2 linked regions of the Homo sapiens genome follow. The protein of the gene in region 2 purifies or fractionates together with the protein of the main gene of each other region. This does not show direct contact. Each region holds a gene or a part of one and is shown on either strand. Other genes may lie near its edges. The genes, in order: HEMGN and ZNF25.

Region 1 (3,829 bases), on a different chromosome or scaffold from region 2:
CCGCCTCCCGGGTTCACGCCATTCTCCTGCTTCAGCCTCCCGAGTAGCTGGGACTACAGGCGCCCGCCACCGCGCCCGGCTAATTTTTTGTAATTTTAGTAGAGACGGGGTTTCATCGTGTTAGCCAGAATGGTCTCGATCTCCTGACCTCGTGATCCGCCCACCTCGGCCTCCCAACGTGCTGGGATTACAGGCGTGAGCCACCGCGCCCGGCCGATCAAGTGTATTTTTTAACCTAGCAGACAGACAAGGATTTTTAAAATGTCATAATGTACAGTGCTGACAAGGGTGTGGGGAAAAGGCACCTGTCTCGTGTGAATTGCTACCACATTTCTGGAGGCTAGTCTGACTGACTGTATATTCAAACTTTAAATTTGGGTACCGTTTGGCCCAACAATTTGATTTCTAGGGGTTGATTCAAAGGAAATAATCAGACAAACTTCAGCCTCCAGTGCCTCCATTTCCTTATATTTAGAATGGGAGTATTATTTATCCAGTAGAGCTTTTAACATTGAATAAAATAAACCACATAAAATATTTAATATGGTGTCTGGCACATAGAAAAGTACCAGATAAATGTTAACTAAATAAATGTTATTCCCAATGATGTTCATTGAACATTGTTGTAATAGTAAAACTTGGCAGTAACCTAAGTGTTCATCCTTATAGAGACTGGTTGAATATACATATAGCACAGTACTATGCAGTTGTTACAAAAGACATCATAAAGATGGCTGCAATACATATTGTAAATGAAAACAAAAACAAGTTACAGGATAGGATGGGTACTGTCTCATTTGTTGAAACAAAACAACCTTAACATTGGGAACTGAAGATAGAAGATGGTATTATAGGGGACTTTTACTTTACTTGATATTCACTTACATATTGCTTTATTATAATGAACACTTACTACTTTTATAATCAGGAAAAATAGATATTCCCATTTATTTGGTCAAACAAAGCCAAAAATAAAATAAGCGTTAATTAATTGACCATATCGACCTTGCTGGGTTTAGAATGAAGCAGTTAGGAATCAGGACGCTGTGTTGGTTAGAGCTGCTTCTCCAGCAGGGTACTCCTGTCAGTGCACGTACTGCTTCACATGCCTGCTTTTGCTGCAATGTATTTCTTTAAAGTAGTTCTTCAAAACTGGTATTACTTGGAAACCAACTAGCACCATGTTTTTGTTGCACTCATCTTTTAGGATAAAGAGCAAGTAAACTACTAAAGGGATTTCTTTAGAAATCAGTTTCCTGGGGATAACTATGGTCTGATAGACTCAGTCCATTTCTTATACTGTCTACAGTATTGTACAAAGAGAGCTGAAGTTCTCAGTTATGTCTCTGAGGCAAGTGAAATTAAAGAAAGGTTGCATTATTTTCAAATTCCTATACTTAGGAAAAAGTTTTTCAGGAACAAATCTTGAAATAGAAAGGGTTTTTGGTAAACCTGATAAATCCTACAAGAATGAATTCCCTAGTAACAGGATTATATTTTACAGCTTTTATCTCCCTCAGTACTTCGTACTATGAATTTACCTGCTTTCCATTTATCAGGCAAATTAAATTTCCTAGAAAAACTTCATTCATCAAGCTTTCTTGTTAATGTAGACTTAATTTTTAAAAATATTTTGCAATAATTCATCCTATATTGGGTTCATTTCACTGACTATAGCATCTCATAATGGATGGATAGTATGAATAAGTACTTAATGTACATGCTTGCATTTTCAATTTTTTTAACTCTTTGAAATATGCCAAGACAGACGTTGGTTGCATGAAAATATTGTTCACTTAAAACTAGTCAATGAAATTCACAGTATCCATTGAAATAACAGGGAATACCCAGGATTGTCAGAGAAAGTTGTAAATCACTACTCTGGGGGAGATGTACCTACCTTGGTGCTATAAACAGCCCTTACCTTGAGGAAAAGTATAAGCATCTTTAGCATCTTCCTGGTGTGCTTTAGGATCCTGGCCTTGGGGCCCACCTGTTTCTTGGTGTGGTTCTGGAAAGCATTCTTTAGGCACATCCTTATTTTTATATGTCTCAGTAGAGAGGTCTTCAGGCCCCGGTGTTTCTTGGTATATTTCAGGTGAATATTCTTCAAGCTGGGATGTTTCTTGGTATATTTCAGGTGAATATTCTTCAAGCCCAGGTATTTCTTGATACGTTTCAGGTGAATATTTTTCAGACCCAGGAGTTTCTTGGTTTATTTCAATTGAATAGTCTTCAGAATGAGGTGTTTCTTGGATTGTTTTATGAGAGGGGGCTTTAGGCACAATAATTTCGTTACATGTTTTATGAGGAAGGTATTTAGGTTCAGCTGATTCTTGGTGTGTTTTTGTAGAAAGGTCTTTAGGCTCAGCTATTTCTTGTATTTTAGGAAAAAGGCCTTCTGTCTCAGCTATTCCTTGATCTGTTTCATTGTATTCCTCTGGTTCTGCTGGATTTTGGTCTGTGTCAAGAATATAGCCTTTAGGCACATCTGGTTTTGGATATGCTTGAAGAGAGCATCCTGCCAGATCAGCTGTGTCTTCAGATGTTGGACAAGGAAGGATTTTGGGTACAGCAGCTTCTTGGCACATTTTAGGAGCCAGATCTTCTCGTTTAGCCATATCTTGGTACATTTTGAAAGGATGGTCTTGAATTACAGATATTACTTGGCATGTGTTAGGAGAGTTGTCTTCAGGTTCCTTCATGTCTTGGCATATTTTGGAAGAATTGTCTTGAAGTACAGATATTTCTTGGTACATTTTAGGAGAGAGGTCTTCAGGTTCAGACACATGTTGGCATGTTTCAGAAGAATGGTTTTGTACTGCTATTTCTTGGTACTCAGAAAAATTCTCCTGATATATGTTACTTTCTTGACATATTTCAGAAAAGTGTTCCTCAGGCACAACTTTTTGCGGGGAGGCTACTGAAGGAAATACTTTGGTTATGCTCCCAGGTGGCTCAGTTTTTTTCTCTATAGGTGCCAGTGCTTTCTCCACTATTTCCTTTTCTATCTGTGGCTGAGGCTCCACCTTCAATTCTGTGTTTTGTTGTCTCTTTCTGCCTCTTCGATTTCCTTTTCCTGTTCTCTGCTGCTTGCGTTTTTTCTGTTCTCTGCAGAAAGAACAGAATTAGTGTCAGCAGTGGTACTACAGAATTCAAATAAATGCTTGTAATAACAGTGCCAGGTCCCCCACTGCCTCATTGCACAAGTATCATGAACTAGTCACTTAATCTCTCTGGGCCTCAATCTCCTTGTTTGTAAAATGAAGGAGCAGCTCTAGATGTTCTCAATTCTTAGGAGAGGGAATGTTTCTCCAGGACTTCGTGGCATTGATACCATGCTTACCAGGAGCCTTCTTGGTGAGGGTAGTGCATGCGCGTATGCGTGCGTGCGTGTGTTATAGCATATTCTTAAAGTTTTGTTATGGAAAATAAATAATTCTCATTACAAATTAATAGAGTGGCATTCTGGTTTATACACTAGTCTCTTTGCATTTAGTCTTTGTGTGTTACTTCCCTACCCCTGAGTAAACTCATACAAATCGAGTTTCTAGACCTGGCACAGCTCCTCGTCTGTGCAGCCTGCAGGTGGATGCTGTATATGGCTTGATTATCAAATACATTATTTTGTGTAAAGAATTCTAAGTTGCTACAGTATATATCAAATGAGGTATACTGTAAGGGGTCAAAAGCTGCAAAAGCACTTCTTGAAGTTAAGAAGTCAGGTAGATAGGCATGAGTGGCCATATTATACCTATTCCTAATTAATAAATTAAAGATCTAGAAGATGAAAGGATATGCATGGTAATTGCAGCCAGTGACAAATTGT
Region 2 (3,829 bases):
AGGGTTTCTCTCCTGTGTGACTTCTCTGATGAGTTTTGAGGTGTGAATTCCTAGAGAAGAATTTCCCACATTCCTTACATTTATAGGGTTTCTCCCCTGTGTGCATTCTCTGATGTACTGTGAGGTGTGACTTCTGGGAAAAGGCTTTCCCACACTCCTTACACTCATAGGGTTTCTCCCCTGTGTGTGTTTTCTGATGTACCATGAGGTATGCCTTCACATAGAAGAACTTCCCACATTCAGTACATTCAAAAGGTTTCTCCCCTGTGTGTGTTTTCTGATGTTCTGTGAGATGTGGTTTCTGGTAGAAGGATTTTTCACACTGATTACATTCATAGGGTTTCTCTCCTGCATGGGTTCTCAGATGTCTACTGAGAGATGATAGGTGGTAAAATATTTTCTTACATTCTTTACACTCATAGGTTTTATCTCTCGTGTGAATTTTCTGATGTCTTATGAGGTCTTCATTTTTAGAGAAAGATTTCCCACATTTATCACAGTCATAGGATTTGCCCTTTGAGTGAGTATGCTGATGTACTATGAGGGCAGACTTCTGGCAGAAGAACTTCCCACATTCCTTACATTCACAGGCTTTCTCTGTGGTATGAGTTTTCTGATGTTTTGTGAGTTCTCCATTCCTAGACAGAAAGTTCCACATTCATTAATGTGTAAGACTTTTAAGGCTTTTTGTTCCCCCTGCTCCACTGGGCGTATTTTCCAAGTACCTCTGAGGACCGATTTCTAGAGATGTTCCCATATTTACTGGATCCATAGGGTTTCTCCACTGTGAGCATTCTCTGACCTGCACTGTAGTTTAACATTTGGTAAGGTGAATCTGCATTTGCATTCTATTCACAGGGTCTCTCAATTGCCTGCATTCTATTTTGTGTAATAGAGACTCCCTTTCATTACTTAATTCAGAAGAGTAAAAAGACCACTTCAAAGTTTCAATCTCCCGATCCTGCACAAGGTCTCTATGAAAAGGGGCAGTCCCATTTGGATTATATTCCTTGGGATTTGCTCTGCAGTGTTAGTTTTCTCACGTTTAGTATTAACTAGTGCCCTCCCATTTCTAGTAACTCCTTTAAGACTCTTGCTTACAAATCTTCTATCTTAAACATTAATTCTTGAACTTGCCTTGAATTTCCAGCTTGGCTTTCCTGGTATCTTGCTTCTAGATCATGAATGCTCCATAGGTCTTCTACAAGGGAACCAAAAATGTAATACTTTATAAATACTACACATTAATATTGTCATAGCATTGATTCTTAGGCTTCAGGCCAATTTCTCATAATGAAAGAACCTCAAATGCAAATTTCCTCTAGCCCATTGTTTTGGGAAAAAAACCTAAAACAAACACTGAAAACTGCTGTCACACACAGAAGGAGGATTCTACTTGTAGACCCATGTACTCTGACATTTTTACAAATGTGACCATAAGAGTTTGGAGGTGAAAGTTAAAGACAAAAAAAGAACCGGGAGAGGAGAACATAGGACATTCGAAGTGTTGCTGAACGGGAGTGTGGGAAGTATAGAGAATACTGTGAGCCCCTTAAGGACCATGAACAGTAAGCAAGTTAAGAAAAACTACTGGACAACAGTGTCCCCTGGAATACATGGAAAAGATTAAACTGAAAGAAGGAGCTGAAGTATAGGTCTTTATTCCCTCAAACCTAGATTACTGTGCTAGGATTCCTAGCATTTAGCAGACAAACTTCTACTTTATTTCCTCTTCATCCATCCACAGCAATCTAGGTGTCAATTACTAAAGTGACTTTTTCAGAACATCAGTTTCCTCATGCTTAGAGGAAGAGTCCTGTAGCTTGGGCTTTCACTCTCCATCTAGTTGGCTTTATTTTCAGGACAGGAAGACAGAGGACCACATATATCCAAAAGGAAGGATTTTCTTAAAAGCATTGGGATAAGCCATCTATACAAGGATGAATTCCTAGTTGTACCACCAGAGATTTTCAATCCTGAACTCATCCTGACCATCAAATCCTGCACTTCTAACGCACTTGTTACTCATGACTCAACACTAGTCTTGAATTTCATTTTCATATCTTGCTTCCTCCATCTCTGCTTCCAATTTACTACAGGATCTTTAAAGGTCCAATTATTGAACATCATTCTAGAATCTTTAGTGACCTTCATATTTATGCATCTTTAAATGCATGAAAGCAAGTGAAAGATTATCAGCAGATGCTTGGGGTTGGAATTTCATAGCAATGGTGGGGAATACATAAGAAAAGTCACTTCATAGTGACTTATGCGACGTTAACTCAGGAACACATGAAATAAGATCATATGTATAAGCCAGGAACGGTGGCTCATGCCTGTAATCCCGGCACTTTGAGAGGCTGAGGTGGGTGGATCACCTGAGGTCAGGAGTTCGAGACCAGCCTGACCAACATGGTGAAACCCCACCTCTACTAAAAATACAAAAATTAGCTGGATCTGGTTGTGGGCACCTGTAATCCCAGCTACTCAAGAGGCTGAGGCAGGAGAATCACTTGAACTCAGGAGGTGGAGGTTGCAGTGAGCTGAGATCGCACCACTGCATGCCAGCCTGCGCAACAGAGTGAGACTCCATATAAAAAAAAAAAAAATCTTATGTTTGGAAAACATTTAAGAGCATAGTAAAATGGAGATTAACAGGTGTTTGGGGGCCACAAGGAGAAATAAGTTGCATAGGCAAGAGAGGGCCAGACTAGTTCCTGACAAAAAATTCATTTAAATGAATATTACTAATACCTCCTTACCCTTGTAAGACTTTTATTTTGTCTAAAGGACTTAATACTGAGTCAGTATTAAGTATACCATGCAGGCTTCTGGCAATGTACATCTGCTGCATTACACAACTACTGTGGGAATTTAAATCAACAATTTTTGTTTTGACCCTAACAAGGAAGGAAGTAGAATAAGCAGAACTATCTTACAAGAAGGTAAAAATATGGGATCAGAATATAAATAGGGCAAAGATGCTGGAGAGGTCAATTTTAGGAATCCTTATCATAAAAACCAATGCATTGGCTTTAAGAATGGATGAGCTTCTACAGGAGTTAATAAAAGGAACAGAGCAGAAAGTAGAAAGTGTCTGTTGTTAATTATTTTATATATTTATTATTTCTTTTTTTCATGAACATGAGTCTCACTGTTGTCCAGGCTGGAGTGCAGTGGGGCGATCTTGGCTCACTGTAACCACTGCTTCCTGGGTTTAAGCAATTCTCATGCCTAAGCCTCAGCCTCCCGAATAGCTGGGACTACAGGTGTGCACCACCAAGCCCGGCTAATTTTTGTATTTTTAGTAGAGACAGGGTTTCACCATGTTGGCCAGGCTGGTCTCGAACTCGGGCCTCAAGTGATCCACCCACTTTGGCCTCCCAAAGTGCTGGGATTACAGGCATGAGCCGCCACTCCCAGCCAGTCTCTTGTTAATTAATATTCATTCTTTCAACAAATATCTAGCGAGCAACTAATATGTACTAGGCATTGTTCCTGATACTGGCAACACATCTGTGCACAAGTTAGAAAATACGTGACAAACATTTAAGAAGGCAGGATGAGATTGTCTTAGTGTTATCCAAATAAGTTTAGGGAGGATAAGCAGTGCTTTGTGGGAAGGATAAACACTGTATAGCAGGAAGTAGCAACTCCAAAATGAAAGAATTGATGAGCAGCATACCGATTTTTAATCTGAGCTCAGAGTTTAAAGAAAAAATGGGAAGTTAAAAGTGGTGCCAAAATAACTGAGGTATTTTATTGTTAATAAAAGGAAGGCGATGCCATTTAAAAACGTTATAAGTCAGATTTACAAACACTTTATAGT

The links.
Region 1: the proteins of ZNF25 (region 2) and HEMGN purify together in Homo sapiens (co-immunoprecipitation; one study listed by IntAct). This does not show direct contact.

The regions. Positions count from the first base shown.
Region 1 is NC_000009.12:97,928,111-97,931,939, forward strand, and holds part of HEMGN (hemogen), read right to left. Parts: intron 3,112-3,829; coding exon 1,925-3,111; intron 1-1,924. UniProt on the Homo sapiens protein: Regulates the proliferation and differentiation of hematopoietic cells. Overexpression block the TPA-induced megakaryocytic differentiation in the K562 cell model. May also prevent cell apoptosis through the activation of the nuclear factor-kappa B (NF-kB).
Region 2 is NC_000010.11:37,952,558-37,956,386, forward strand, and holds part of ZNF25 (zinc finger protein 25), read right to left. Parts: intron 1,202-3,829; coding exon 1,138-1,201; intron 639-1,137; coding exon 1-638. UniProt on the Homo sapiens protein: May be involved in transcriptional regulation.